4 linked regions of the Homo sapiens genome follow. The main gene of each other region encodes a partner of the protein of the gene in region 2 in a complex. Links are inferred from orthologs where the notes say so. Each region holds a gene or a part of one and is shown on either strand. Other genes may lie near its edges.

What was found.
Region 1: the proteins of SYT1 (region 2) and SNAP25 are in contact, whole or in part, in a crystal structure (PDB 5KJ8), measured with the Rattus norvegicus proteins. The link is inferred for Homo sapiens from one-to-one orthologs. Residues at the interface, in NP_001028852.2 of Rattus norvegicus: Cys277, Arg281, Lys288, Val292, Leu294, Glu295, Asn336, Tyr338, Asn340, Arg398, Arg399, Pro400, Ala402, Trp404; in NP_112253.1 of Rattus norvegicus: Lys40, Asp41, Ile44, Leu47, Val48, Asp51, Glu52, Glu55, Gln56, Arg59.
Region 3: the proteins of SYT1 (region 2) and CPLX1 are in contact, whole or in part, in a crystal structure (PDB 5W5C), measured with the Rattus norvegicus proteins. The link is inferred for Homo sapiens from one-to-one orthologs. Residues at the interface, in NP_001028852.2 of Rattus norvegicus: Glu271, Thr383, Gly384, Glu386, Thr406, Leu407, Gln408, Glu412, Met416; in NP_074055.1 of Rattus norvegicus: Val61, Met62, Gly65, Asp68, Lys69, Tyr70, Lys74.
Region 4: the proteins of SYT1 (region 2) and SV2A are in contact, whole or in part, in a crystal structure (PDB 4V11), measured with the Homo sapiens proteins. Residues at the interface, in NP_001129277.1 of Homo sapiens: Thr291, Lys314, Lys326, Lys327, Lys328, Glu342, Ser343, Phe344, Ser345; in NP_001315603.1 of Homo sapiens: Asp82, Thr84, Glu85, Gly86, His87, Asp88.

Annotation. Positions count from the first base shown.
Region 1 is NC_000020.11:10,270,494-10,278,408, forward strand, and holds part of SNAP25 (synaptosomal-associated protein 25), read left to right. Parts: intron 1-4,935; 5' UTR 4,936-4,998; coding exon 4,999-5,070; intron 5,071-7,191; coding exon 7,192-7,233; intron 7,234-7,915.
Region 2 is NC_000012.12:79,447,859-79,452,508, reverse strand, and holds the end of SYT1 (synaptotagmin-1), read right to left. Parts: intron 3,592-4,650; coding exon 3,385-3,591; 3' UTR 501-3,384; downstream 1-500. UniProt on the Homo sapiens protein: Calcium sensor that participates in triggering neurotransmitter release at the synapse. May have a regulatory role in the membrane interactions during trafficking of synaptic vesicles at the active zone of the synapse.
Region 3 is NC_000004.12:822,566-831,243, reverse strand, and holds the start of CPLX1 (complexin-1), read left to right. Parts: upstream 1-5,114; 5' UTR 5,115-5,198; intron 5,199-6,642; 5' UTR 6,643-6,721; coding exon 6,722-6,752; intron 6,753-8,678. UniProt on the Homo sapiens protein: Positively regulates a late step in exocytosis of various cytoplasmic vesicles, such as synaptic vesicles and other secretory vesicles.
Region 4 is NC_000001.11:149,914,497-149,922,914, forward strand, and holds the start of SV2A (synaptic vesicle glycoprotein 2A), read right to left. Parts: upstream 3,349-8,418; 5' UTR 3,243-3,348; intron 1-3,242. UniProt on the Homo sapiens protein: Plays a role in the control of regulated secretion in neural and endocrine cells, enhancing selectively low-frequency neurotransmission.

The sequences.
Region 1 (7,915 bases), on a different chromosome or scaffold from region 2:
TTCGAGACCAGCCTGGCCAACATGGTGAAACCCTATCTCTACTAAAAATACAAAAAATTAGCTGGGCGTGGTGGCATGCACCTGTAATCCCAGCTGCTTGGGAGGCTGAGGCAGCAGAATTACTTGAACCAGGAGGCAGAGGTTGCAGTGAGCTGAGATGGCACCACTGCACTCCAGCCAAGGTGACAGAGTGAAACTCTGTCTCAAAAAAAAAAAAGAAAGAAAGAAATGCAGAATCAGTGACCCCATTTCAGACCAACTGAATTAGAATCCCTGAGGGTAGGGCCCAGCAATCCATTTTAACAAGGTTTCTGCATATTCTGACTCTGGGGGAAGTTTCAGAAGCTCTGTCCTGGACCACACCTTGTAAAGTGCTGATTTGGGAACACTGAATGCTACATGGGAGTGTCAGAACAGTTCATCCATGTCAGTTAACATGAATTGAACCCTTACTAGGGGTCAGACCCTTTGCTAATAAGCACTGGTGATTTGAGATAATTAATTAGATACTGTTAGGCTCTTAATAGACTGGGAGTTTGTCTTACAATCAGAGCCTCGGGGAATAGTTTTGAGTGGCTTTTCTTCCTAATTTCTTCTGCTTCCTAGTTTCCTCTTTCTACCTGCTCTGCAACACACAAGATGGCAGTTTATTGTGCTAATATGAGGGATGTATTGCAGGCTGCCTTGATCATAAATGCCACTTCACTACTAACGTCCTTTCAGCTACTGAAATTACTATTAATAAACATCCTTATGCCTCTTCAGCTGCTGTCTTTTAGAATGCTAACATGCATGAGTTTGGGGTTTATAGGAACAATTTATTAAACACTAGCAGTAAACATCCCAACAGAAGATCTGGAGGTACGCTCAGCGCCCACTCTCCAGCCGTTCTTATTAGGAGAGGGGGAATTGCTTTTTCAGCTTTGAAATGCTGTGTGTTTGAGATCCACCAGATTCATCAGCCCTCCTCCCAAATCACAGACGTATCTCCATGTTTTAGAGCAGGACAAAGGTGTGGGAGTTCCTGGGGGAACCGTGAAAGTGATGAAACCAAGGGTATCTGCCACATGGCTTCTCCGCCATCGCACCAGCTGCCCATCAGCCAGGCCTGGATAGGCTGCTGTCAGCTTGGAGCCAGGGCGCCCTACAGCTGTTCTTCACATGCTGAGAATAACAACTTTGAGAGGAGATTGCCAAGGAAACACAGGAAACTTGAGTATGTGTGAGAGAGAGGGAGAGCGAGAGAGAGAGAGAGAAGAGAGAGAGCATGCACAGAAACATTCATCAGCAAATAGACCTGAAGGAGTGGGACAGAGCAATAGCACTACAAGTCTGAAAGCACATGGACCCCTGCCTTCTAATAAACTGGCCTGTGAAAAGGAAAGGTCAATGGCTTGCTTAGGCCGAAGATACACATTTCCCCCCCAGGAACCCAGCAGCAAAATATAAAGATGGAGCGTGGGGCCAGAAGGCACTCTTGTTTGTCTCCTCGTGGTACTCCTGTGAGAGGTGCTGCTTGGAGACTGGAGGCTCAGGCACTCTGCTGGTTTCCCTGGTTTCAAGCTTCCATGGGTGCTCAGCACCACAGCAACATGTCTTGTGCCTAGCCGTTAGTAGAGGAAAGCTGATTAACAAATACCGGGTTTGTTCCACTCTTAGCCAAGGGTGTAGGGCTGTCCTGAATTAGTGAGGCTTTCTGAATATTAAGCTCCACATCCTTTTTTACAAAAAATGTTGGCCAGAACTTTTCTGTAATTTATTCCCCTCAACAACCCCATGAGATTGGCATTGTTTGTCCTGTTGAGAAAACTAAAGCTCAGAGATGGTGATGAACTTACCCAGACTCACCCAGCTTCTGAGCGCCAGAGCCAGCGGTCCAGCTGGGTCTTTCTGACATCAATGCCTTTATCCACCCACTCCACTGAACTATGGTCCATAGTCTACTCAACTTCCCCACGGGTCCACTGCTTTATTCTGGAGGGTAGATCCCCGGTCACTTGGGAATACTAAAATTTCATTTTTGTGCATCTTAAGATTCTGGAGTGACTTGGTGTAAATTCCTTCCAGTGTCTGTTTTCTAGATCCTAATTTGTAAAATGGAGACATGGAAATAAAGTCTCATGTATTTAAATAAAACACAGTGTTCACATCTCTACATCATCTCACGAGCACATGTTCTAGTGGCCAGAACACGCATTCGAAAATTAGCAGGCTCATCGTAAGATGCTCTGTCAGTTATAAAATGACTGCCCATAAAGCTAACCTCACATAAACTTACTCCATTATTTGTTTAATGCCAGTGGTAGAATAAGGCAACCCTGAAGTTTTGTTATTTCTTTTTTTACTCAGATTCCATATTTGTTGCTTTGCCCGGCAATCACTGGGTAGAGAACGGTGAAACCTGTTATCTCCAAAGAAGTTTCACTTTAGGATTCCTTCTAAGAACCCTAAAGAGTATGATTTCTCCTTTTTCACAAGAGCAATAAATTTGGAAAGTGATATTAATATGTACTAAAATTCCATCCTTGTTGAGAAAGCAATAGAATCGTGGACCTGGAGGGTGAGATGGCAGAGCCTCCTCCCCCAGGATCAGATCTAGGACCTGCCTCTGGGAACTTTTGTTCCCTTGCCTCCCAATGAGTATGTTCCTGATTTTTTTTTTCATACAGAATTTTCATTTTTATTTTTCCGAAAAGTGATTCTCATTCTCATGCAAATAATAATAATAATAAACATGGTAGTGCCCCAAGGCCCCAAATCTAATTTCCTCTCCCAGCTTCGGTTTTCAATAGAAAGACAAACAAAAATATGTTTTTTGGTTAGGAAATCATGCTCATATGCAATGTTTCTGTTTCATTTTAAGTTTCTTCAGACATTTACTAGTTAGTGTAACACAGGCTGCTATAACAAAACAACCCTCACATTTTCCATAGCATAATAGAAATATATTGTTTGCTCACGTAAGAGTTCAGGTGTTACTGGCCAGGAGTCATTTTTCTCCATGCAGGGATATGGAGGGCCCAAGTTCCTTCTGTCTCATGGTCTCATGGCTTAACCATCCTTTAAGACTGTATTTCTGGCAGAAGGAGAAACAGAGGGAGGAGAATACCTGCTTCTGAACTGCCTTAGACTGACAGGGACACACTTTGTTCTACTACCACTCATGGACTGTCTCTAGCCACAGAGCACCACTTCCTTGCAATGGGAATTAGAAATGTAATTCCTGGCTGCACAGCCATTTCCCAGAGATCATGCTCTACCATGCAACAGTGAGGTTAAAGTGCACAGTTGACCATCTCCGCTACAAGACAAGAGCCCATGCCTTCTTCAAATGTGCTACTCACAGAGAATTTTTCATTCTATCAGATACCTACCCCATCGGGCCCTTTGCCCCCTTCCCTTCGATGGCCTGGGGACATGGCTTCCTCAGAAAGGCCTGTTGCAAACCCATGGGCACCCATGATACCAGACATGTCCCCTAGTGTAATTATCATCATCCTGAATCATCTAATTCCCTCTTTTGCTTGCATCTCCCCAATTAGACTGAATTCTGTAAAGGCAGGGAATTTGCCTATCTTGTCCATCACTGTATCCCTAGTGCCTAACACTGCCTGGCATATTACAGGTGCTCAATAAATATTTGAGAAGGAAGGAGGAAGGAGGGCTCTCTCCGGAATAGACCCAGTCCTTGTACCTGTCATTTGTACCATGTGGGATTTCAAGAGAGTAGCCAAGAAATGGACTGGTCACCTTTCAGGACCAAGGACCCACCCTCTTTGGAGTGATAGCAGCTCACCCTCACACAAGCCCTTTTGGCAACCTCTGATGATGACTGAAATAGATGAAAGATTTTCTGCCTTTGGCTTCCACATGCTTCTAAACACAATGGAACACTATTCAACAACAAAAATTGAATGAACTATTAATACATGCTGCAACATAGATAAATCTCAAAATAATTATGCTAAGTGAAAGAAGGCAGACAAAAAGTAGTACACACTATGTGATTTTTATTTATATAAAATTATAGGAAATGCAAACTAATGTATAGTGACAGAAAGTAGATCAGGCTGGGTGCGGTGGCTCACGCCTGTAATCCCAGCACTTTGGGAGGCCAAGGCAGGCGGATCACAAGGTCAGGAGATCGAGACCATCCTGGCCAACACAGTGAAACCCCGTCTCTACTAAAAATACAAAAAATTAGCCAGGTGTGGTGGTAGGCACCTGTAGTCCCAGCTACTCGGGAGGCTGAGGCAGGAGAATGGCGTGAACCCGGGAGGCAGAGCTTGCAGTGAGCTGAGATCACGCCACTGCACTCCAGCCTGGGCGACAGAGCGAGACTCTGTCTCAAAAAAATAAAAAAAAGAAAGTAGATCAGCAGTTTTCTGGGCATAGACATGTGGGATAGGGCAGGGGCCAGTGGGTGGGTAGGAAATTTGGAGGAGTAATGGCTATGTTCATTGTTTTGATTGCAGTCATGGTTTCCTGGGTGTATACATATGTCAAAACTTCTCAAGTTGTACACTTCAAATATGTGGGGTGGACTGTATATCTGTTATACCTTAATAGAGCTATTTAAATAAATAAATAAATAAATAAATAAATAAATAAATAAATAAATGTGATGATAAAAGTACACTAACCCCAAACCACATCCCTCCAACCTCATCATTCCCAACCCTTGGGTAGTTTGTCTCTTTAAAAATATTTCATCGGTAGATAGGTGTCTATCTCCATGGCAGAATTGGCAAGTATGTATTTGTGGCATCCTTCGGAGAAACAGCACAATTCTGTTGACCCCTGTCTGAGTATGGCTTTCAGATCAGAAAACTGAGTCATGTGGACTGAGTATGGGCCATTTAGATTTTCTGGTCTTTGCACACACCTACATGAACATATATAAGCTCTCATATTTTCATATCTACTTCTTCCCAGGTCCAGAGCCAAACCCGTCACTGACCCCCCAGCCCAGGCGCCCAGCCACTCCCCACCGCTACCATGGCCGAAGACGCAGACATGCGCAATGAGCTGGAGGAGATGCAGCGAAGGGCTGACCAGTTGGCTGATGAGGTAAGGAGTGGAGACCTAGGAAGGGAGGCAAAAGATGAAGGCCTGAGTGGTTTGTCTTATTCAGGTTCAGGTAGGGAAAGCCTTTCTTTCAATGTCTCAATTTCTTTTAGAAAAAGTAATATGACTTTGATTTTCTGTACACCTAAGGCTTCTGTGGACCAGAATAAGTTGATTATAGAAGCTGCATACAAATTACTGTCTTGGCCCTAACTCTCAATTTCCAGAAACCTTGAGAAGTCAAGGTCCTCTAAGAAAAGAAAGCAATGTCTTTGGGTGCCTTAATTCAGTGCTATGCTGGAGAAGGCTCAGTTCCGAGAACAGATTGTTAACATTTTCAGGAACTTTGCAAGCTGGTTGCTAAATGCAGCCATTATTAAAACTGAATTACATAAACTGACAATTAGATAGATTCTATTAAAATCAAAAGTAATAAACACTCAAACTTCATCACTTCCTAATTATTTTGCTACATTTTACTATTATCCATGATCTTGAGATTCATCCATTTTATCTGTAGGGTGGAAATAAGGTATAATAATGTGTTACCATGTGTCTTTCCAACTTCATGATCAGTAATATGAAGTTGTAGCTTAAAATCAGGCAGAGCTGGGTACAGCGGCTCTCACCTGTGATCTCGGCTACTTGGGAGGCTGAGGCAGGAGGATCGCATAGGCCAAGAGTTCATGACCAGCCTGAGCAACATAGAGAGACTCCCATCTCTAAAAATATTTAAAAATTTAAAAATCAGACAGAGTAAGAGTATTTATCACCCAAGAATCTGCAAATACTGCAGATCAGGACTTGACTTATTGTTTTGCTGATTGTCTAGACTTTAAAAAGTAGAGAAAATATTAATAATGCAGATTAAAGTTAAAAGTATGTATGTCTGCAGCCATTATACTATGAATAACACAAAAAGAGGAAATCTTCCAGTATTTGAAAATTATGATTCTCTAAGGCAAAGAAATCCTTTTTGTCATTCACAAATGAGTACAATTCCAACACATGCCTTCATTGTTTAATTTTCTTCTTACTCATTAATATACATGAAAATATCCAACCAACATTCATGTCAGAACTACTCTGGTTCATCACATGGTTAGCTGTAGACACAAAAGTTCAGCAAAAATCAGTAAAAGTTTTCTGTGAGAATCAATTGGCTATGCGGAATTTACAATAAAGAGAGTATTGTATATTTTATTATTATTTATAAATTTTGTGCTATTCATCCTTTATATCAGTAAAATAATAAACTTGAATACATGTATGTATTTGTGTATTTTTCCCAGAGAGCCGGTAGTTAAACCTTTACCAGCAGACTGCTGCTTGCAGCCATTCTATTTCAAAAAGCAGCTGGCTGACAGCTCTTCCAGGGAAGTTAACATCCTTCAGGTTCCTGCAGAATCTTGTTCAAAATAAGTTTGTCAGTTAAAAGCAAAGCTTTGAGAAATCACACTGGTTGTTGGATTCTAGTCGTTTCAAAAGAACTGAGAAAAAAGTGACAACGCAGTGCCCGGGGGACCATTGCAGAGCTCAGCCTTTCCGTCTCGTTTTTTCTTATCTAAGGATGAAGATAATTATTATAGCTCTCTCCTATAGGCTGGTCATTTCAAACATGCTTGATTTTTTTCACCCTAAGGCAACAACTTAATTTGTATTGATAAGAACTTCCAATTGTGTTTCTAGGAGCTTTGTAAGAAACTTGATGTTATATTCATCTCGATTCATGAAAAATTATGTTTGTGTTTAAAATTTAATGTTCCTGGCCCAGGGAGGCCAAATTAGTCCTCTGAGTAATTGAGATAATTTTTCATGCATTCTGAGCATGCAAAATTATCTTCTCCAGATTACTTTGTCTTTGATATCAAGATCAGCTTCATATGGTTTTTATTTTCTGAAGATAAGCTGTAATGTAATTGCTTTAGGGAATCTGATCATGTAAAAAGCCTGATAGGAAAGAGTTTGAAAATGTAATGACATTTTTTGTTTCACTTGCCAACTGAAAAGAATATGTGACAGAGACCCTTTGTGTTTCTCAAGTAAATAAAGTATTTCTGATTTTCCAAGATCTCTGGATCCTGCACTCATAAAGTTTATGTTTGTTTGTTTTTTAAATCTTAGTCGCTGGAAAGCACCCGTCGTATGCTGCAACTGGTTGAAGAGGTAAGAAGTGACAGTATTTTAAGATAAAGGAACAAATCCCTTATGCTGATACATCCTTTCCTAGTTGCTATGATGTTTCCTTGGGCCATGATCCCCTAGATTCCAGTGTGGATGTAGCCTATCAGAAAGGCACAGAATGAGGGAGATGCTGTATTTAAGTTGCCAGATAGCCATGAAGACACCTTCACCCTCCTTCCCAGCCCAAGCCACCTCTGTAGTCTGGTCTGGGAAGCAGAGAATAATAGAATTTCCAAGTCTGTGCTCTCAAGAAATCACAGACGATTGTATCACTTTAAGCAAATTAGAGCAATTCTTAATATACAAAGGAATTATCTACATAAAACTTTATTTGTAATTATTTTTGTGCCTATAAATTACATCTAATCTTGAGATTCTGTTCTAACTTTAGCCACATATATGACTTTTAAAAATATGTACGCATATAGGTGTATCATTTTTAGAAATTGTTCTATTTAAAGTCAAGCACTAAAATTTATGAAAAAATAGGAAAGCCCTTTAACAAAGGGAAATATCAAGTCCAATAATATAAATACAGAAGCTTTTTTATATTCCTGCCTGGATTGAGCATCCATTTGCCAGGCAGGGTTAATGAATCCCAAACTATTTTTAAATGGGTAAAATGGGGCAAATAGCAATAATGGAATCAAAAGGGCACTTGCAA
Region 2 (4,650 bases):
GTGGGCTTCAGCGTCCAGTACAGTAGGCACTTGATAAATGTTAAATTTAGTGGAGGAAAAGTATTTACTTGTTTCCCATAGCGATCGTAGTAGGCATAGAATTTAATGTGTCATACTGTCCTCTGAAACTGGGGTTTAAATAGTTTTGTTTTCCGTCCCATTCTGGAGAAGCTGTGTGACTTGGGTTCTGGAGTGAAAACCCTGAAGGACACATGCTGGGCAAAGTGAAAAGCCTCAGAGTACGCCAGATGAACTGATGACACACAGGAATAGAGAAACACATGTTGAGAATGACACTGCCCAGGAACACCACGCGGTCATGGCCAAATGCTCCCGGGTGTTGTTTTCCCTCTAGCTATTCTGTACTCAGATGTGACTCAGATGCTGGCATTCAGTGCAGTTTTGTTTAGCTGCTGCTGCTTCCAGGAGTCCCCCAAAGTCAATAGGCCATTGGCTTACCACCAGAGTCAGGCAAGGAAAAGAGTGGGAACGCAGCAACATCAACAGGAAATAAAACATTTTTATTGAATATCTGTGTAATATGTTAAGTCATTTTTAACAACAATCAGAAAACTACTGTGGAATTCACTACACAAAGTGAAACAAAATTTAAATCACCTCATCAAAAATGAAGGTAAAATACAGCTGAAATAGTTGGCTCGCAGGCCACGAGCCATATGGCAGAGGAAAACACCCCAACATTTCTACAAGATACAGGGAAAACCCACACATAGAAACACTCAAGCAGGCAGTAAATATACACAAAGGCAACTAGGATCTTTCTAGAGCATCAGATTCTAATACTTTACACAGCTTTGTCAGAAGGGTACATGTGGCTTATTTGAGGATGAATCTTGGTCATAAAGCAGGTTCCATCACTGACTTGTGAAAGAGTGAAAGATGGCATAGTACCAACTAATTCTATGGTGACAATCCCATGTCTGGCAGTGTTGCAAGAGAATGCATTAGTGGTATTTTAATGCAAGAAATAATGTCTATTCAGCAGCTTGAACCTGCTTGTTTGAAAGTGTGGTTTCATTGTGAACAACTTAAAGCTGAATACAGTGAAATTAAATGTCATTTGTGGTATTTAAATACTTTTTAAAAGCCAGTCAACTCCCTCTCTTTGGTAGGGTTTGGCCCTTTAAATTGGAAAGAGTCTTGTTTGAATTTTCTGTTCAAACCATTATTTAATTTCACATTCTGACTTGTGTATATTTTCTATTACCTATGTTTTTTAAGAAGTACGGACCATCGGCAGACGGTTATTTTCCTTTTATCCTTTATGTCTATGCCAATTATAAAGCGTTTGCTATGTCTGGCCTAAAAGGCAAAAGAGCTTGCCCCTTCTTTGATAAGGAAACAGTAACGACAGGAATTCCAGTTTTACTGGGAAACAGCCAACCCCATGTTCAAAGCCTACCATCAGCCCTTTTTGAATTCTCTTTAGTTTTTGAAAAGACGTGGTGTGATATCCTGAAGACTGAACATGAGGCCAATGCTTAGTTTTCCTCCATTTTGTTTTGATATTTGTGAAGACAAACTTTCATTTCAGAGCATCACTACTGTCTTGTGGCCTGGAAATTAAAATGGATCACAGAAGTGAATGGGACAAAAGGCTAGATGCAGTGTGGGATAATAGGCTGCCCTTCCACGAAATGGTTGTCTACCATAGTGGGGAAAAATATGGAATATTGCACAGTGCTTGACAAAATGCTGTGTTCCACCCCATTCTATGTATCTTCCTTGTCCTATGCATAGCTTTTCAGTTCTGAATTGGTCCTTTGTAATGAGAACTGTTTGTGCTACACACACCTTGGGCAGTGCAGTAGAAGGGAATGGCAGTATTGTTACAATATCACTACGGAATAAATTGAGTGCTATCCACTGAGGAAACTACGGGTCTAAGCACACACGGCAGTCACAGTGTTACACAGAGCAGTCCTTTAAGACTCTTATGGAATGACTAGTAGCTTCATAATAGTGTCATTTACTACATAATAACATTGAAAACGTTTAAAAACTCCTCCTAAATCAAGCATCTAGTATACATAAGAGGTTGCTTCAGTTTTCTAGAACTTGTTCTTGGTTTGTTTCACCTTTTTTTAAAGGACAAATTAAAACTTAAGTAAAAAGAGCATATAAAAAGATCACTAGCTGTCTGTTTTGGCTTAATTGAAGTGCATTCAGAACTATGGCTAATTGTTGTTGGTTTTTGTTTTTGTTTTTCTTTCATCTTTTGATGGGATTACAATACTGTCTGTTTACCACAAAGTAATTTTGTGTAATAAGCACAGATTGTTGTGTTAAAAATATCCTGCATTCCTTCTAACCTGGTTTTATATAATAAAATATTTTGTTACAAACTCTAATGTGCAAACCTTTTGGAATTATTGTAGGTGTGAAATCTGGAACAGAATTCACAGGATGTACATTTTGTATAAAGGTGATAATGGAGAGCTACTTTTTTCTTTTTAAATAGTCAGGCAATATTTCATAAATGTTGACTTCTCCCCTTAGCTTCTTCTCCCCCATCCCCAAACAAATGTGCACACACACACACACACACACACACACACACACACGGAACACCTTGTTGTTATTCTATATGCAGTAATATGAAATCATTGACTCCTGTTCAGTTGCTTCCTCAAATATAAGAGTGAAGCCATTATTTTAGCTTTGTAAATATGTACAGACAGGTGCTATTCTGTTTTGTGGCTATGCTTCCTTGAGGTCAGCCTGGATGCTGCTGCTCAGATCATGCTATTTTGCCTGTGTAGGAATTCTACAAAATTGGATTCACCCACCAAGTATGTGGTGTAAGTTTATCTTGGTACTCAAATGATTCAATAGAAAGCTCAGGTTTAAGTTGTCCTTTAAGATGTCAGTTTAACTGTACTAGTGCCTTACGAGTTGATATTTTTGCTGGAATGCAGACGATACTATATTTACCGTATAATATATTATCAGCTCTCCTATATCTCAGTCAATTTACATAGTTTAAAATAGAACATCTTATTAAAAACATCTAGATATACACAGATTAGGAAACGCTTACAACATACAAATACACAAACTAGAAATAAATCTTTAGCATACTGGTATATACAACAGTGTGATACAATAAATAATTTCATTCATGCTCTATCTACACATCATATTGCTTAAAAGAAGAGTAGATTTGGAGGGCAGTGGTATGATGAAGGACTTAGGGGCTCTCTACATTTAAATTTGTGCAAATTAAAACAGGATTCCAAGTACCACTGAATTGTGTTAGGAATGCATGGCTGGAAAAATGAAAGGACCCATATTACTGAGGTATTTACAGATACTGGCTAAAGAGCACTATATGGGCAAATGCAGAAAGGCTTCTTCTTTCCTTTACTTCTTGACGGCCAGCATGGCATCAACTTCCTCCTCTACCTGCAGGGTGTGCCACTGGGCAATAGGTCGCCTGGGGTTGGCCAGCATGTCTGACCAGTGTCGCAGCTCCGCGCCGGTGCTGTTGTAGCCCACAAAGACTTTGCCGATGGCATCGTTCTTGCCAATCTTGTCATAGTCCAAAACAGTTACCACCACCTGCACTTTCTGAAAGAAGCCATGAAATGAATATGAATCATCTAGCTCTAGAGATAAGGCCCGACTATAAAGCGTCCTTGAGCGCTAAAGAATTGGAAATAGAAGAATCAATCTCCAAGCACTAGGATGAGGATGAAAATGACTTGAATCTTAATACTCAAACGTTAATTTTTATTATATACTTTGCACTAAGTCTTTTACATGAATGAACTCAGTTACTTCTCATAATAGATCCTATTAATATTGCCATTATACAGGTAAGGATGCTTGAAGCTCTGAGAAGTTATATAACCTGTCTGAGGTTGTTTAAGGAATGAGTTGTTTGGTTTTCAGAGCCTATGCTGTGAACCTCCATGCCATGGAGTCTGTGTCAACTTGTGCTAACCTCTAAATTCATTTGCTTCAGTTGTCTTATCAGTGAAAGTTCTGGCATTGGTGTTCAGCCCACTCTATTTGATTACAATTCCCAAGGCAACCATGTGCAATAATCTGATTTTAAGGGTGGGGGGACAGCATGTTACAAAAAAATTAATATAGAATTAATATAGAATTTCAACTAATCATATGATTGTGAGCATAAAACATGATAGTATAGTGAAAAGTATGGTTAAAAAGTAGTAATAAAGATATTTTTTTCTCATCCATACGTTCTCTTAGTAAACATTTACTGAGTAACTACAATGTATCTGGCATTGATATCAAATGGAAATATCAGTTTAGGCTACACGGGATTTATTCAATGATTCCATCAGATTTTGAAAGTTTATTTGATGACTTCCTTTTCTGAATGATTGAACTGATGAAAGCAAACCTATACCATTATGGTATAAAATATATACTTTTTAAAAGCAAATTTCAGTTCTACTTCCTAAGTAATGAATTTACTTAGCAGAATATGTGATGGTTTCAATCTAGCAGCTGAGTGTAAAGGTAAGAGTTTAAAATAAATGGAATATGTAACATTTATTGCCAGAGTTGAAAGTAGCAGAAAATGTAATTATAAAAGCTAGGGCCAGATTAAGAACCAGCTGAGTTAGGGCCCTTTAGTGGACTTTATATGCTGGAGAC
Region 3 (8,678 bases), on a different chromosome or scaffold from region 2:
CTGGACACCCTCCCTCTGCTGGGCGCCGCTATGCTGTCTACACTGCTGGGGTGACTGCCCTGTCCTGCAGCACTGCCTTGGCGCCCACTGCCCTGTGAGACGGTGCTGCCCTCCCGCACCTTCCCAGGCCCACCCCACCCTAAGATGCCCCTGCTCTGCCCTCCAGGGACAGCCCCAGGGACTCACTTCCGCCACTGTGCCCCCACCACACCCATGGACACAAAGTCCGACAGTCAGGAGGTCAAGCCCTAGGGGACACAGAGAAGGCCACAGCCCGGCTGAGCCGTGCACGCCCTTTCCCTAAGTGAGCACCAGGGCTGCCGGAGGGGTCCCGTGCTCCTGGGGAGCCAAAATAGCTCCTCCTCCCACTTCCTGGGCATGAAATGCTCCCAAAAATACCCACATGCATGTGATGTGGCCTCACTCCAGGTGTCACTGGAGGAGAGGGAGGGAGGGAAGGGGCATTCGGCGTTCTGAGCCTGGCTTCAACCCAGCTCTCCCTGCCCTCTGCCCCCCGCCTACCCCTTCCGGCTCCATCACACGGCACTCAAGACCCTAAGGAGCATCTGAGGCTCTGGGTCCCAGGAGTGCAGGTGTTTGGCCCAGGATCCTCCCGGGAAACTTCTCCTCCCCACGACTGGCAGCTCCCAGGATCTCTTGCCCATCTCCAAATTCCAGCACCACCCACTGTGCTCACCACCCAGCCAGCCACACCCCTGGGCCAGCCCTGCCTCTCCCAGACGAGCTGTCTCTCACCCTGTCCTCCGGGAAGGCCCCTGAAGCCCCTCCTTCCTGCCCTGAGGTGTTGAGGCTGGGAGGGCGGAGTCCCTCGAGCAGCTGCAGCCCACAGCAAGGCCCCTTTCCTCCACAGCCTCTGGGTTTGTCCACCCCAAGCCCACTCCCCACGGGCGGCTCTTTTGTTGCCCTGGGTCCCTGGTGGATCAGGGTCCCCGGCTGAAGGAGGCCAGATCCACACCCCACACTCAGCGCAGGGCTGGAGCCGGTGGCTCCCCCTGAAGCTGGAGGGCCCTGGCCTGGCGGGTGGGCTGCCCGGGACCTGGCCTTGCCCAGCTCAGAGGCTCCCTCCAGCCAGGGGTGAGTGCCGCTGACCCGGCTACCTGGTGCTGCTGACTGCATGGTTGGGACCATGCTGGGCCGCAAGAGATCAGCTCAGAGCGGGCCCCATGTGTGCCCTGGGGCACCATGAGATCTGGGCACCGTGTGACCGGGCAGCCGTGGATCCCAGGACCCCAGGGCAGGGCCTGGGGCACAAGCATTCGCTCAGCTGCGGCAGTACCTCTGCTCTGCTCCCAGGGGCCCACTAGGCTGACCTCCCAGGCGCTGGCTTCCCCCGGCTAGATGCTGGACCTCTCTCACCCAGTGGAGGAGGGGAACGGGTTCAGGGCGCTTCCCAGGCGAGGACACCCTCCACTCAGCCCAGGTCCTGCCCCAGCTCTGGCAAACGGCAAGGGTCTACATCTTGCTTTGCTCACGCTTTTCACGTGTTGTTACTTTTGGAATATCAAAATCCAGCAGGAAAATGACAGCGTGGATGGTGTCGGCACTCAGACTGAATCACTCAGCACATGTAACTATTAAGTTTGTGTTTGAAGGTTCTGGGTGGGTGCTGTGGGCCGGATCCACACATGCGGTGTGGCAGAGCGCTGCCCTCCTGCTGGGCCCATGGGGGACATGGCCCCCTGGCCACACCCCACGCCAGGACTGAAGGCCAACCCCAGGAAACCCTGACAGTGCTTCCCAGACCCTTTCCTGGCCCAAGGCAAGGAGGATGCCTGGCACCCAGGAGGGCTATGGGCAGATGGGACCCAGAAGATGGGAGCAGGGTGGCAGTGGAGGCCTTGGCAGGGGCTTCCAGAGAGGCTAGAGCTGGAGGTTGCAGCAGGGCAGCTGCCTCCTTTCCCTGCTGTCTGGAGTGACCCCGCAGGGTCTCAAACCCAGTGCCACATGGTCCTCACACAGTCCTGCTTTGTGCTCCTGGGGTCCCTGGCCTCACTGGGGCTGGGGATGGAGCATCTGAGGAGCAGAGGGCTGGCTGGGCCGGGGGTACCATCCATGTCCAACCGGCTGGCACAGGCCCCACAGCCAGGGCTCGGCCCAGCCAAGCACTCACACTTCTCCAAGCTGACCTCTGGGGGAGCCCTCGTTGGAGCTCCATCCTGCTCCTCCCGGACTTGCTCCACACCCCACCTCCTCCTTCTCCCAACATCCGCCTGGACGGGGTGGCCTCCAACTCTTCCCCGGCCTGCAAAATGTTTTCCCTGCCTGGATCTTCAACCTGGCCTTCAACCTGCTGGCCCCTTTCTCACTCAGCTCCTGCCCCTTTCCAGCCGGCTGGAGGTCTGCGGGGCTTCTTCTCCAGGGCTCAGGGCCTCCTCTGGGCACTCGAAGGGCCAACCGCACCTGCCCTGGTGTGGCCAAGTGGCCCGTGGGGGTTGGCAGAGGCCTTTTGCCGCGTCACCACCTTCTGCCACTGGAACGGAGCCTGGGTGGCTCCTGGCCAGCAGCCTGTGACTCCCATCCCAGCTGGGCAGCCCTGGCCTGGCTCACACACCCTGAGTGGGCACCACCCTGAAGCCCTCCAGCAGATGCCCACTTTCCCTTCCCCTGGCCCAGCTCACACACCCTGAGTGGGCACCACCCTCAACTCCTCCAGCAGATGCCCACTTTCCCTTCCCTAGGCCACTTGTCACTCTGACCTGGGGCTGTCACCAACCTTGTCTATTTCCCCCAAGTTGTGGCTGGGCCCCCCCACCCCCAGGTTAGGGCCTAGACAAGTGTGAGAGCTGAGAAGCAGTCACTGCATGTGTGGCTGGATGTAACAAGTAACAACAGGGACAGGCAGAGACAGAGAGAGACGGACACAGAGAGACAGAGACAGACACAGAGACAGAGAGATACAGCGACAGAGAAAGAAAAGACAGAAAGACAGAGACAGAGATAGAAAGAGACAGAGAGACAAAAAGACACAGAGACAGATACAGTGACAGAGAAAGACAGAGACAGAAAGATAGAGACAGAGAGACGGGCAGAAAGACACAGTGACAGAGAGATACAGCGACGGAGAAAGAGACAGAGAGAGAGGCAGAGGAAGACAGGGCAGAACGTGAGGGCTGGCAGAGGGTCTCTGTCCTCTGTGCCCCAGGCCCCAGCTCCAGGTGTGCTTGGAGCTCAGGCTGGCCTGGGTTGTAGAACGGGGAGGGGTCAGCCTAGGAGTCCAGTGCTTCTGCTCGGAAGAACGGGCACCTCCCTGCACTCCTGTGCAGACTGTCCCAAAGGCACCAGCATATCCCTTGCATGCAGCTTGTGGAGGTGGCAGGGTCAGTCATGAGCCTGGCTCTGGGCTCAGGGGGTCACCCCTGGGGTCCTCTCTGGGGTTACTGTCCGGGTTAGCTGTTGGGTTATCCACCCAGTTAGGGATGGAGAGAGAAAGCACCAGGGCCGAGAAGTGACCTCTTTCTTGGACCCGAACATCTCACCCTTGCTGTCCCCTCCCAGGTCCTGAGGAGACTAGAGGAGCAGATGGAGCAGAGCAGGCTGGGGCTCAGGCCGGGCCCCCAGGCATGTGTCCTGCCTCCTGTCCCTGGGCCCAACGTTCTGAGCCCACTTGGCTCAGATCCCGGGAGAGAGGAAGGGACGGTGCTGGGGGTGCCCATGGCTTCCAGCCAGGGAGGCTGAAGAGACCCCAATCCTAGGGCATGGGTCCCCCTCTGGGAGGTTGCCTGTGAACCCCCAGGCCCACGGGACCCTCATGGCTGTCTCAGGGAGCCCCCATGGGCTTGGCCCTGGTGCCTTCACCCTTCCCTCTCCCCCAGCGCTCCCTTCCTCTGCGAAGGGTCCCCTGCCAAGTCAGCAGAAGAGTGGGGACGGGGGCAGAGGCGCTGGGGCCAAGGCTGGGAGTCCAGGCCTCTGAGTCCTCCTGAGCTCAGGCTAAACACGGGGCACCGGAGGGGATGGGGCTGAGGGCGGGGGAGGGGCCGCATCTTCCCTGCGCCAGGGGAGTCCCCAGGACTCAGCAGGGAGGGGACAGTGACAAGTTAGTGCGGCGGCCACCGGCAGCGGCCCCCCTCCCCCCTCCCCACCCCCACCCCGCCAGGAGCACAGGGCAGCTCTAGGGTCGCGGTGCGCCCCATCCCTCCCGCCGCCTGGCTCCCGACACTGCACAGCGCGAACCGCAGGGCCGACCTTGCGGCGACCCCGCTCTCCCGCAGTGCCGCGTCCGCTGCAGAGGAAATCCCGGGGGCCAGGGGAGGGAGCGGTGGGGTCTCTGGCCTTCGTCCCGGTAAAGGAAACAGCGACTCCGTTACACCGAAAGTGAGCCCGGGCCGGCCTGCGGGTCTCTGGCTGCGAGGGGCTTGCGTGGGTTTTCAGGGGTCTGGGGGCCCCCTTCTCCCGCCCTGCGATACGGGGAGGTCGGGGCAGAGGGGTCGGGGCGGCGGGCGGCGCTCAGGGACACGGTCACCGGAGAATGGGGGCGGCAGCGACTCCCAACCCCTGGCCCCTCCGCTCGGGAGGCAGCGACTTCTCCGCCCGAGGGTTTTGCACCCACCGGCCCCGCGCGGACCCTGTAGGGAGCAGGCCCGCACCGTCGGGCTGGGGGCGGGGGGGCAGAGCCGGGGGCGCCCAGATCAGGGGCGGGCGGGGGTCGCAGGCGCCCGCCGGGGGAAGGTCGAGCCCGGGCCGGGTTGGAGGGAGGCGGGGGCGCGTCACTCGGGTCCACCCCCGCCCCCGCCCCCGGGTCCACCCCCGCCCCCGCCCCGGGTCCACCCCCCGCCCCCGCCCCCGCCCCCCGCCCCCGCCCCCGGGTCCACCCCCGCCCCCGCCCCGGGTCCACCCCCCGCCCCCGCCCCGGGTCCGCCCCCCGCCCCCGCCCCCCGCCCCCGCCCCCGGGTCCACCCCCCGCCCCCGCCCCGGGTCCACCCCCCGCCCCCCGCCCCCGGGTCCGCCTCCGCCCCCGCCCCCGGGTCCACCCCCGCCCCCGCCCGGCGCCCGCGGCCCCGCCCCTCGGCGCTCCCCTCCCCGTGCTCGTCACGCTCGGACGCGGGCGGGGGGCGGGGAGCGCCTGCGAGTGACGCGCCCTCCTCGCGGTGCCCTTCAGCCGCCGCCGCAGCTCACCGGGCGCCACATGGACCCAGCCGGCCCGAGCGCGCCCCGCCGCTGACCGCCCGCGCCCCGGGAAGGTAACCGCGCCCCGAGCGCAGCGCGCGCCCGGCCTCCGCTCCCCGGGTCTCCCCTCCCGGCCCCGGCGTCTCCTCCCCGGCCCCCGCTTCTCCCCGCTTCTCCCGCCGGCCCCGGTTTCTCCTTCCCGGCCCCCCTTCTCCCCGCGGCCCCGGCTTCGCCCAGCTCCTCCCCCCGGCCTCCGCTCCCCGGGTCTCTCCTCCCCGGCTCCGGCTTCTCCCCCCGGCTCCGGCCTCTCCCTCCGGCCCCCGTTTCTCCCCCCGACCCCGGCTTCTCCCCGCAGCCCCCGTTTCTCTCCCGGGCTCCGCGCGCGCGGGGTCCGGGGCGGGCGCTGTCCACTGCCGCGGTGCTGAAGCGGCCCCCGCGGTCCCGGCCCGCGCCCGGCCTCCTCCTCGCTTCTTCCTGTCTCGAGGCTCCCCCTCTCCTCCCTCGCCCTCTTTCTTTCCTCTCCTGGCGCGCTCCCGCCTGAGGGCCGCTCGCCCGCCCGCAAAGCCGAGGGGTGCGGGTGCGGCGGGGCCGGAGCCCTGCGGGTCTGCGGGGCCCGGCCGTGCCCTCCTTCCCCGCGCCGCGGGAGCCAGGGGAGAAGTTTGGAGGAGAATCGGCGCTGCGGCAAAGCCTCCGAGGGGCGCTCCCCGCCCGCCGCCCTCCCAGTCCCCGCGCGAGTCTCCTTCCTCTGCGGAGGGCGAGGGGTGAACCGTCAAACAGTGTCTCTCCAGGGACCTGGGGTTCCCCGATAGGAGAGACCCCGCAAAACCGGGGGGCTCACTGCGGCTGCTGTGATTTCAGAAAGCGGCTTCCCAAGAGGGGACCAGAGCGCCCCACCCCACCCCATGCACGCCCCCGGGGCGGGGGTGCTCTGTCCCCGTCCCCACGTGTTTCCTGAAGGCTGAGCCCCCTGAAGTTTCTCCCCAACCCCGATCTCTTCTACGCGGGCCATGTGGGGGGCACACTGACTGCAGTGCCGTCAGGGATAGGGTCACCCAAGCCTCCCTGGTCAGAAGCCACAGGAGCCCGCCCTGAAGGGTACCCGCTCAAAGACCCACCCCCAACCCTTCTCCACGGCCCTGGGCTCGGGACCACCGCGGAGGCGCCGCTCCAGACACTGAGCTGCAGAGCGGAGCAGTCACCTTCAAACGCCCCCTGGGCCCCGCCCCTGCTTCCGCAGCCTGGCGCCAGGCGCCTCTGAGCGATGCCCCCTAAGCCATCAGCAGCCCTCCCTGCAGAGGCTTCAGACACCCCAGGAGCTGGGGAGACCATTTTCAGGTCCTCTGGGGTCCTGGTTTGGGTGTGGGGACAGAAGCCCCTCACGAAGGACTTCCCAGGCAGCCGCTCCAGGTGGGGGAGGGTCCAGCCCACAAGGTATTGCGGGTAAGGAATGATGGTCTCTGGGGAAGGCCAGGCAGGGGCCTGCTTAGGGTGACCTGTGACCACTTCACTCTCCCCCAGGAAGAACACTCGCTCCCGGCCATACTTGCGTGTGAGTTCTGACCCCTGGAGGAGCCACTGTGGAAGCAGAGCAATCGCCATGGAGTTTGTGATGAAGCAGGCTCTAGGAGGTAGGAAGCGGGAGGTGGGGTGGGGAGGGGCTGAGGGGACATGGAGAGACCACCACAGCAGCTGCTCCTCATCTGGCCCACCGCAGCAGCGCCCCTGCAGCCACACGGCCACCCACGCAGCCCTGCACAGGAGCCTGGGGCAGAGGAGCAAGGACCGTGCCCAGCAGCGCCCCCAGCCCGGCCCTTTTCGAGGCCCCGAGCCAGAACTGGTGTTCCTGGCGGGACAGGGGCTGCCCTGTAAGCTCACTCTGCCCCACTGCTGTGGTCGGGGCAGAGCCCATGGACCATGCTGATGCACGTCCTGGGGGAGGGTGCACACTCTGGCGTAGGCTTTACAGGGCCAATTCTAACTGGCCAGGCTGGGCAGCCCCCAAGGGGGCTTCCTTCCAGATGAGGAGAGCCAAGCGGTGGGAGAGCAGGATGCAGGTGGCAGCCTCAGGGACAGGCGTGGGGACAGAGCTGGCCTGTGCATCTGGCGAGGACCCTGTGGGTTTCACTTGGGTGAGGCAGCGCCATCCTCAGGGACCAGGGCTTGCTGGTTACGGGAGCGAAGGAAAAGGCCCGAAACAGCTTGTGTGTCTCGACTGCCTCCCAGGCGGGACGTGCAGCCTTTTTTGTGTGTACTGGGGTGGGGCCAGGCCCCCTTCCAACCTGCTGTCTGCTATTTGAAAGGAACCTCGTCCCCACTTGACCCAAGGCTGTCATTGTGGCCAGAGACCATGTCAAGAGCAGTGGCTGGGTTCCTAGACCAGGAGGTGGGCAGGGCCTGGGCCATGCTGGTACAGACGTGTCCCGGCAGAGCTGATGGGTCAACTCAGGCCTCGGGGCTGTCGTGGCGAGTCTCAGTTTTGCCCAGAGCCGTCCATCCTGTGTTCCCCCAGCACCAGTGCCCAGAACTCCTGTGAGGGGAACCTGTGGCCGGTGCCCGATTCTACCACTAGAGACGTCTTGCTTGGGTGGCCTCCACGGGGGAGCACCCTCACCTGATGCCATTCACACCTTGGAGTGAGTCAGGCCTCCTGGGAGCATTTCTGCAGTGGGGGAGCTGGCCGGGTTCGAGGGGCCAGGGACAAGGGTGTACAGAGGGCAGGCGCCGCTTCCCCCAGGGCAGGAGCTGCCTGCCTGGCTGTCTCCCGGAGGGTGGCTGTGCTTCCACTCAACACAAATTAAATGAAAAGATATTGAGCCTGTCCTGGGGCCACATCCCTGAGATTTCGTGGTCAAGGGTAAGAGTCAGGTTGAGTCTAATTATAATGGCTGCGTCACCGGGCTGTGATTCAGGGACAAGCCTGCATCTGCGCTGGGAGGGACGCACGTTCCACCCAGGGAGTCCCAGGCTGTTACGGATAATTAATTAGTTGGCTAATTCAGGCCCTGAGGTGGGCTTGTAAGAAACTGAAATATCTTATTTGGCTGTCTACATGACTGAAATTAGCTGGGTAATTACCAGCCTGAATTCCCTTTTTGTTTCATGGCAGCCCAAAGTTTCTCCAGCAGCAGCAACCGGGCAGGCGTCGCTCAGCGTGGTGGAGCTGAGCGGGGGCAGCCAGCAGACCCTGGGGGGGCTCCACGCTGAGTGCTTCCCAGAGCACCCCACATTGGCTTTGCAGAGCACGTTGAGGCTCGGAGCCAGAGCTGCTGAGGGCGGGAGCTGGTGGGGGGCTTCCAGTCGAGACCTTGTTTTCTGCCTCTGCGCCTCTGTCCCTCACCCGGCGAGCCTCATTGTTGCTGTCTCAGGATGCGTGTGAGTGAGACAGAGCAAGACAGAGATGGGAAATGGGGGAACCTCCAGACAGCACGACAGAGCTTGGCAGAGACCCCAAGAGAACTATTGAGAAACAGACCAAGCCCCGGACACAAAGAAGCTGGCAGGAGAGGGAGCAGGAGGCACCCAGGAAGCCGTTCAAAGAAAGGCGAACCCAGAAA
Region 4 (8,418 bases), on a different chromosome or scaffold from region 2:
ATATGAGAAACCAGAATTCCCTTCTTTAGTCTTGCCTGGGTTTCTTACTAGGGGTGGAGTTGAGGAGGATGTGTAAGAGGACAAGCCCTCCAACCTGTGGCCTTCCCTCCTCTGATGGCATCTGAAGGCAGGGGCTTCCACTGTCCTTCCCTCAGGTCCCATGTTTACAGGCTTCAACAAGGAGGGATTTTCTCTCAACATAGTCTAATGGGTAAATGCTCAGCTTCCAGAGTCACAAAGACATGGGGTTGACTTCCTGTTTTGGCAAATACTAGCTAAGGGACCAAGCCTCAGTTTCTTCTTGTTTAAAAAGGGGAAAGTAAGGGTCGAATGATATAATGTATCTATGCTCCTTACCATAAGTCACCTGGCACATAAAAATGATGAATAAATATTAATTATTAATTTTGTGGTGACAGTAATATAGTGAAATGCCCTATACTACCTCATAAGGTCCCCAGATGAAAGCTATCTTGGATGCTCTTTAGGGTGAGCAGCAGGAAGGGACACTGGCAAGGAGAATCCTGGTTCAGGGCAAAGCACATGACTGTTAGGGGTGACCTAAGTTGAAATCCCAACTCTGCCACTTACTAACTGATCTCAGTCAGGGTAGTTAACCTCCCTAAGCCTCAGTGTCCATCTATTTTAACTGGGGATAATTAAATTGGGAGACTGTTTCTTGGAGTTGATGTGAGAATGTAATCTCACAGTAGATACTCTATGTTAGTTTTCTTCCTTCCTATGATGTTGAAAGTGGGAAAGAAACAGGAAGCAGCAAGGGACAACAGGGGGGTCATACTTAGATGCTGTTGCCCAGCATCCTTGCAAACAGAGTCCCAAGACACCCCTATCTATGTTTCAACTAATTCCAGTAGCTGGGCCCACATTAACTACCTCCAGAAGAACAAGGGAAGATCCAGAAAAGGGGGACCTGGAACCCAAGTAAAGTGGAGGAAAGATGGAAAGCTAAGAAAGAGGTGATGACTGTCCACTGCCACCTTGCTTCAGAATGTCATAGATAGGCCCCCTTTCCACAGATGGGGGTGAGAATGGAAATGACTGTCAAATGCATACATTTCCAACATGAGGTTCTAAGGCCTACAGTTGCATCCCATCCCTCCAGGGCCTCCCTTCCTAATCCCCCTTAATCCTTTCTGCTCCTCCTCCAGGAGTCAAGGAAGAAGGAGTCCACAAACACCGCATTGCGTAGGAGGCGGATGTAGAATAAAGGGGGTTTGGGTGTCCCCCCAAAAAAGACATTCTCCAGAGGAAGGCATGGGATAGCCCCCTTCCTTCATAGGAGCAGAGGAAGCAGGCCTAGATTCTGATCAGAAATCATCCCCCTAAAAATATCCTGCCTCCGGTGCTCCCACCCATCCAGGGCCTTCATTAAAACACACACACACACACACACACGCACACACACACACACGCCCTGGTAGAAGACGGTAAGCAATGCTATGTGGTTCAGAGAGAAGCACTGGCAAGCAGCGCCTTATCCCCTCAGGACAGATGTAAGCAGTGGACCACGGTGACCAGAAGCAGTGACCCCTATGTCACCTTTTCTTCATGGTTCAGGGCCCAACCATCCCCCATGAAAGAGCTGGAACTGCGGAATCCCCTCAGCGCATGGCAATTTGCTAGCTTTCCTCTCTTTCCTAACCAGGATCTCCCCTCCAGCCCTGAAGGAGGCAGGACCCACCAGGAGCCATACTCTATGTTTGTTGACCCTATTTCCCCCTGAGAGGGGCACGTAGGGCAGGGAAGCCTTCCACAACCACAGCAGGATATGAGGTCTCAACAGCCAGCTTCCTCAGGGCCAGCAAGCCCAGGAGGTCAGGAGAGAAAGAAAGAAGACAAATTCTTTGAGCTGGTGAGGAAGTGGTGCTATTTTTAGCCCCCAAAACAGCACAGGGTGGCTAAGCCTGGGGGAGTGAGACAAGACTTGGAGAGGTGGAGGTTAAAGGAGACAAGGTTCAGGGTTACAAGGTCCTAGGCTGGCTGACTTCACCTGACAGGAAAAAATGTGCCCAGGAGATTTTCTGCAGAGGGTGGAGACAGGCAGGGGACTCCAGAGCAAATGCTTTCTTTCAGAACAGCTCATCCAGCCCTGGGTCCAGAACCCCCCACCCTCCCAGTCAAAGCCCCTGACTTTGGGGTCCACCCAGATCCCCAGGCCTTCCTAGCTCAGGTGACAAGGTCATTAAAAAGCAATCACTTATCAAAACGTCCGCGGGGGCGGGGGTAGAATGTGGGAGGTGCGGGAGCACCCCTTCCCCATGACAGCCCGGTCATCGAACTTCAGCCCCCACCCAGGACCATCAAGACTGCGCCTCCCCTCCCCACATCCTACCAAGGTTAGGAAGATAGGAGCACCCACAGTTCTGAGGGATAAAAATGAGGGTGTCAGCTGAGAATGCACACTGAGGAATACGGAGAGGCAGAGAGGGGGACGCAGGGAGAGACCTCCGCATGCACAGACATAGAGACCGCCCCTATCAGCATTTGCAGCGACCCCCCCACACCCCATCTTGCCTCAGCTCCGGAATAAGGGAAAAGCCCCCAGAACTGACTAAATCCCTGCTCTGAGCACCTCCTCCACCCTTGGTCCTGCTGCTAGACAAGTGTCCACCTTCACTCAACATCCCTTCCCCCCACCCCGGAGCAACTGCCGCCAGCCCCCGCCATCCATGCCCCCAACACCTGGCGGCTCTACATCTCTGTCTCCCCAGTATTTCCATTCTTCACTCCCCTTCCCTCCATCCTTCACCTGCCCTTCTTCCCCTGCCCCCCACCCACCCAAGTCCAGGCGTGCACACTGAGGCAGCATCCATTCTCCAGCCCCAGCCAAGGTCATTTATCATTCATCCTGGGGGTGGGGGGACGTCAAGGTGAGGAGGGGATAGGAGTTTGAGGGAACCTCATCCCACCTCACAACCCCACCACCACGTTAATCTCCGAAGGGGATAGTGGGGACTTGGTTAAGGTAGAGAAAAACACCCCTCCTCCCCATTCACCAATATTATACATATGCGTGTGTGTGTGTGTGTCCTGAAGAGCACAACTGAAATAAATGTCCATCCCCAAACCACCACCAACCCACCAACCCCCCTCACCCCTAGAGAGGGGATCGTCACCCTCCCCATAAGCAAAGCATCGGAGGATAAAATGGCTGCAAGGCAAGGCAAAGATGCTTCTGCCAGGGGCGGGGAGGAGGTGAGCGACTGAGAAAGGGGTCTCACCTGGTCTAGGTTCCCCGGGTAAGGAGTCCCGGGCGAGGACGGGGGTCCCGGCCGCGGGCGGAGGCGGCAGCGGCGACTGCTCCCGGCACCAGGGAAGCGGCAATGCAGACCTGCCACCCCCCTTCCACCACTCCAGCCCCGCCTCCGCCCCCCCCTACCCCGCGCCACTGAGCATCGGGAGAGACCATTGGTGGGGAGAGGAGAAAAGAGGATGGGGAGGGAGTCAGGGCACGGGGAGAAATGATGAAAGGGCCGGAGGTTGTCACAAGAACAGCTGGAAATGGCACCCAGCCCTTCCCAGGCCCTTCCTAGTAAAAGATAGAAGGAACTAAAGAAAAAAACAGTGATGTTAGGAAGACAAGTGGGAAGACAGGGAGATGGGGAATGTGGCAGCCCCTTCCTTAGCACCCCAGTCTCAGTATGGCAGGACCCAATAATTTCAGGGGCTTTTGCTGCCTTCAAAACACCTCCCTTGCCTTCTCCACTGCTCTCAAACTCCTTTTTCACAACAGTCTCCCAAATCCAGAGTGCTCCTATTCCAAGTTTACCTGGACATTTTAGAGAAAGCAGAGATAACAAGGTGTGGTTTCTATCCTGAACTGCCAGAGTCAGAGACCCCTGGATTCCTTCCATCTCTTTCCTCACAAAACAGTCCAGGTTACTTATTTACAGTGGACACCTCCTCATCCTGTCCATTCAGTTGGTGGTAGCAGAAGTACTGGGGAAGTTGAGGGATTTTTACAGACCTGACCAACCGGACAGTTCCCCTTCCATTAATTTGCTCCAATGACTCAAAAAGGATCCTCTCAATACCCTTCTCCATTTTCTCTTACTCTCCTCTACCTCCCTCCCCTCCCCTCCACACACTTGTACTTCCCGGGCAGGAAGAAGTAAATTGTTTCAGCTTTTCCCTTCATCTTTCCTTTGCTCTTGCATCAATAACCTGGACTCAGAGATCCAAGACATGCCACTTGGTGACACTTGATGACCATCCCTGCCGAAGGAGTGAGAGGGAATATGGTGATTTGGGGAAATACATCCTGAATGTGTCTATGCCAGATAAGGTCAGGACCTTCCAGACAGCACTGACCTGGGCTTGGACCTGGGTTCTCACTGCTAACAAGCTGTCAACTCTTGGTCAAGTTCTCCACATCTGTGAACTTCAGGTTTCTCATCTGGAAAAGGGGGGCTTGGACTAGATACTGCATCAGGTCCCTCTCAGATCTAATAGCGTGTGATTCTGCCTTACTAAATGTGGAGGCTTCAGAATGCTGATATATATACATGGAGAAGGCTGACAGGCTATGTCCGAAGAGACCACACAGGTAACATTTGCCAGGTTGAATTTACCTCTGACAGGGACACGGGCCTGGGCTTTGCAGACTCCAAAGCTGGATCTTGGAAATAATCATTCATGCCAACAAAGTTCACAATCTTCTGAAATATAAAGCCATAATACATAAATATTAATTTATCATAAATATTTAACTGTCACTCAGACTGAAAACTCATATCTACATGTCTAGTACATTCTCTCCCTGAAGCCAAATCAGAATCATAATGTCAATGTATAAATGCACAATGACATTACTGGAGGATTTGTATCTTTAATGGCATCTGGCCATCTGCAATAAGCAGCCATGCCAATGGGTCCAGAAAACTCTTCTTGGCAACAATCTTCTACCCCCACCTCTTTGCTATTGGCAGCCTTGCCAGCACTCCTGGACTACTCTGAATGTGACGGCTTTCCAGGATGGTGCTTGGACTGGCCTCAGGGACTCTCCCTTTACTAGACTTTCATTGCTGACCCGTCTTCAGGTTAACACACATTCTTTTTCTTTTTTTTTTTTTTTTTGAGACAGAGTCTCACTCTGTCGCCCAGGCTGGAGTGCAGTGGCGCAATCTCAGCTCACTGTAACCTCCACCTCCGGTGTTCAAGTGATTCTCCTGCCTCAGCCTTCCCAGTAGCTGGGACTACAGGCACGAGCCACCACACCCAGTTAACTTTTTTTTTTTTTTTTGAGACAGAGTCTTGCTCCGTCGCCCAGGCTGGAGTGCAGTGGCACAATCTCGGCTCACTGCAAGCTCCGCCTCCCGGGTTCATGCCATTCTCCTGCCTCAGCCTCCCGAGTAGCTGGGACTACAGGTGCCCGCCACCACACCCGGCTAATTTTTTGTATTTTTAGGAGAGACGGGGTTTCACTGTGTTAGCCAGGATGGTCTCGATCTCCTGACCTTGTGATCCGCCCGCCTCAGCCTCCCAAAGTGCTGGGATTACAGGCGTGAGCCACTGCGCCTGGCTAACTTTTGTATTGTTAATGGAGACAGGGTTTCACCGTGTTGGCCAGGCTGCTCTCGAACTCCGGACCTCAAGTGATCCACTCACCTCTGCCTCCCAAAGTGCTGGGATTACAGGCGTGAGCCACCGCACCCAGCCAAATATGTTAACATTTTCAATTAGGTTATAGCCAAGTCCAGCAGGAGAGCATTTGGCCAGCAGGGAGCCATTTCTTCCCTTTAAGGTGACTTTGCCTACTCTCCACTGATACCTTATTTGCTAAAATAGAAATCTTGCATACTTTTAGAGTGAAAACTTATACCATCAGTCCTCCATATCCATGGGTTTGGCATCCATGGATTCAACCAACTGTGGATGGAAAATGTAGTTAGGCCTATGATGGTTGCATTTGTACTGAACATGTATAGACATTCTCCTCTTGACATTTATTTCCTAAACAATACAGTATAACAACTACTTGCATAGTATTTACACTGCATTAGGTGTCACAAGTAATCTAGAGATGATTTAAAACACACTGGAGGATGTGCCTAGGTTATATGCAAATGTGCCATTTTATATAAGAGATTTGAGCATTTGTGAATTTTGATTATCTGTGGAGGGTCCTGGAACCAATCCCTTGAGAATACACAAATGACTGTATATATTTTCAAGTTCTGAGGGAAGACCTCATCATTTTCCCCCAGGTGCCAGTGCCCTGTCCCACCAACCACTCCTTTGTAGTCCCCTTTGCTGGGGCCATTTAATTTTAGAGTTCCTATGGGCTCAGTCCCAGGGGCGGGAAGCCTTCTACTCTCTTCTTGCTCACCACAGGCAGTCCCGACTTTAATACTGCCTATATGCTGATGATTCCCATTTATATCTGCAGTCCAGACCTTCCCATCAAGCCCAGACTCAAAATCTCTGTCTATTCAATATCACCACACGAACATCTAATAAGCATATCAAACTGGGGCAGCTAGAATTTCCGAGCCAACAGCCTCCAGGCTGAAGCAGCTGCCTCCCCTTACCTCAATTTTGTTTCAAATGGTTCCCTGCCATGATGTGAAAAAGGGCTGAAAAATGGTTTTTGGGAGCTCCCTAACTGGCTCTGACCTCAGCCTGCCTCCAATCCCAAACAGCTCTAGTGCATTATACACCATGCTATTTATCAATCTGTTTCTCCTCAGAAACATCCCATCCACCTGGATTGAATTTCTCCTTGCCTGGGAAAGGTCTATCCTTCCTTGAAGATTAAATGCAGGTATCACCTTTTTCCCAGGAAGTTTTCCTGGACTTTTCTTTTTTTAAGGTGGGAGGTGGGGGACAGTTTCGCTCTTGTTGCCCAGGCTGGAGTGCAATGGCTTGATCTCGGCTCACTGCAACCTCCACCTACCAGATTTAAGCGATTCTCCTGTCTCAGCCTCCTGAGTAGCTGGGATTACAGGCGCCCACCACTGCACCTGGCTAATTTTTGGTATTTCTAGTAGAGACGGAGTTTCACCATGTTGCCCAGGCTGGTCTCGAACTCCTGACCTCAGGTGGTCTGCCCGCCTCAGCCTCCCAAAGTGCTGGGCTTACAGGCGTGAGCCACTGTGCCTGGCCGTTTTCCTGGACTTTCATGCCAGAATAGGTAACTTTCTTCCTGCTCTCAAAATATTTTGTTTCATTAACAATCTCTTATGTGTCAGTTTTGACAGCAGAACTGCCTTGCTTATCTTTGAATCCTCAGCTGCCACCAACAGACATCCTTTGCAGGTACCATAAAAATGTTAATGAGAATGATGGACGAGAACAAGGGGGCCATGCTCACTTCTTGCCTAGAATTTAGTAAAGTTCACAGTTACATAAGCCAGAGGGCACTTCAAGGAAGGGGTGACTTAACAGGATTAATGTGGCAAAGAACATGGGGGAGAAAAAGGCCATTGGATTTGGTCTACTGAAAAGTCTTTAAACTGAGATTTACACGTGATGAAAATCAAGTTTGGAAGGACTGAGAAATGAGAAAAAAAATTGAAATACAAACTCCTTATCTGAGATGACTGTTTACAGACATCTGTAGGAACAGAACAAAATGGAACACGTATGGAACATTTACTGTCTCCATTTACTCATTTTGTTTTGTAATTATGTAAGACATCTATATTGTTCCAAATGAAAAACACATTAACACAGTATACTCAGAGAATCCAGCTTCCCTCAATATCCACTCCCTCCCCAGTGTTATCAATTTCCATTAGTATTTGGTTTATCCTTTTTTTTTTTTTTTTTTTTTTGAGACAGAGTCTCGCTCTGTCGCCCAGGCTGGAGTGCAATGGCGTGATCTCGGCTCACTGCAGCCTCCGCCTCCCAGGTTCAAGTGATTCTCCTGCCTCAGCCTCCTGAGTAGCTGGTTTACCCATTTTTAAAAACGTTAATACATATATATATATATATGCTACCCTTAGAGAAGGTAGCACACTACACACATTATTTTCTTCACTTGGAGATCTCTCCACAGCAGTACGTAGAGATCTTCACTTGGAGATCCTTTTTAAAGCTTTTTTTACATTCCTTTTTACAGCTGCACAGTACTCTGCTGCATGAATTTATCAGTTTATTCAACCGTCCCTTTACTGATGGAGATGTGAGTTTCCAATCTACTGCCATTATAACAGTGCTGCAATGAATTGCATAGTGCATGTTACTTCATTTTTGCCAGACTATCTCCAGATACATCTGTTCACTTTAAAACAATAGTCCGGCTGGGTGAGGTGGCTCACGTCTGTAATCCCAGCACTTTGGGAGGCTGAGGCAGGGGTGATCGCTTGAGCCCAGGAGTTCAAAACCAGTCTGGGCAATATGCCGAAATCTCACCTCTACAAAAAATACAAAAATTAGCTGGGTGTGGTGGCACAC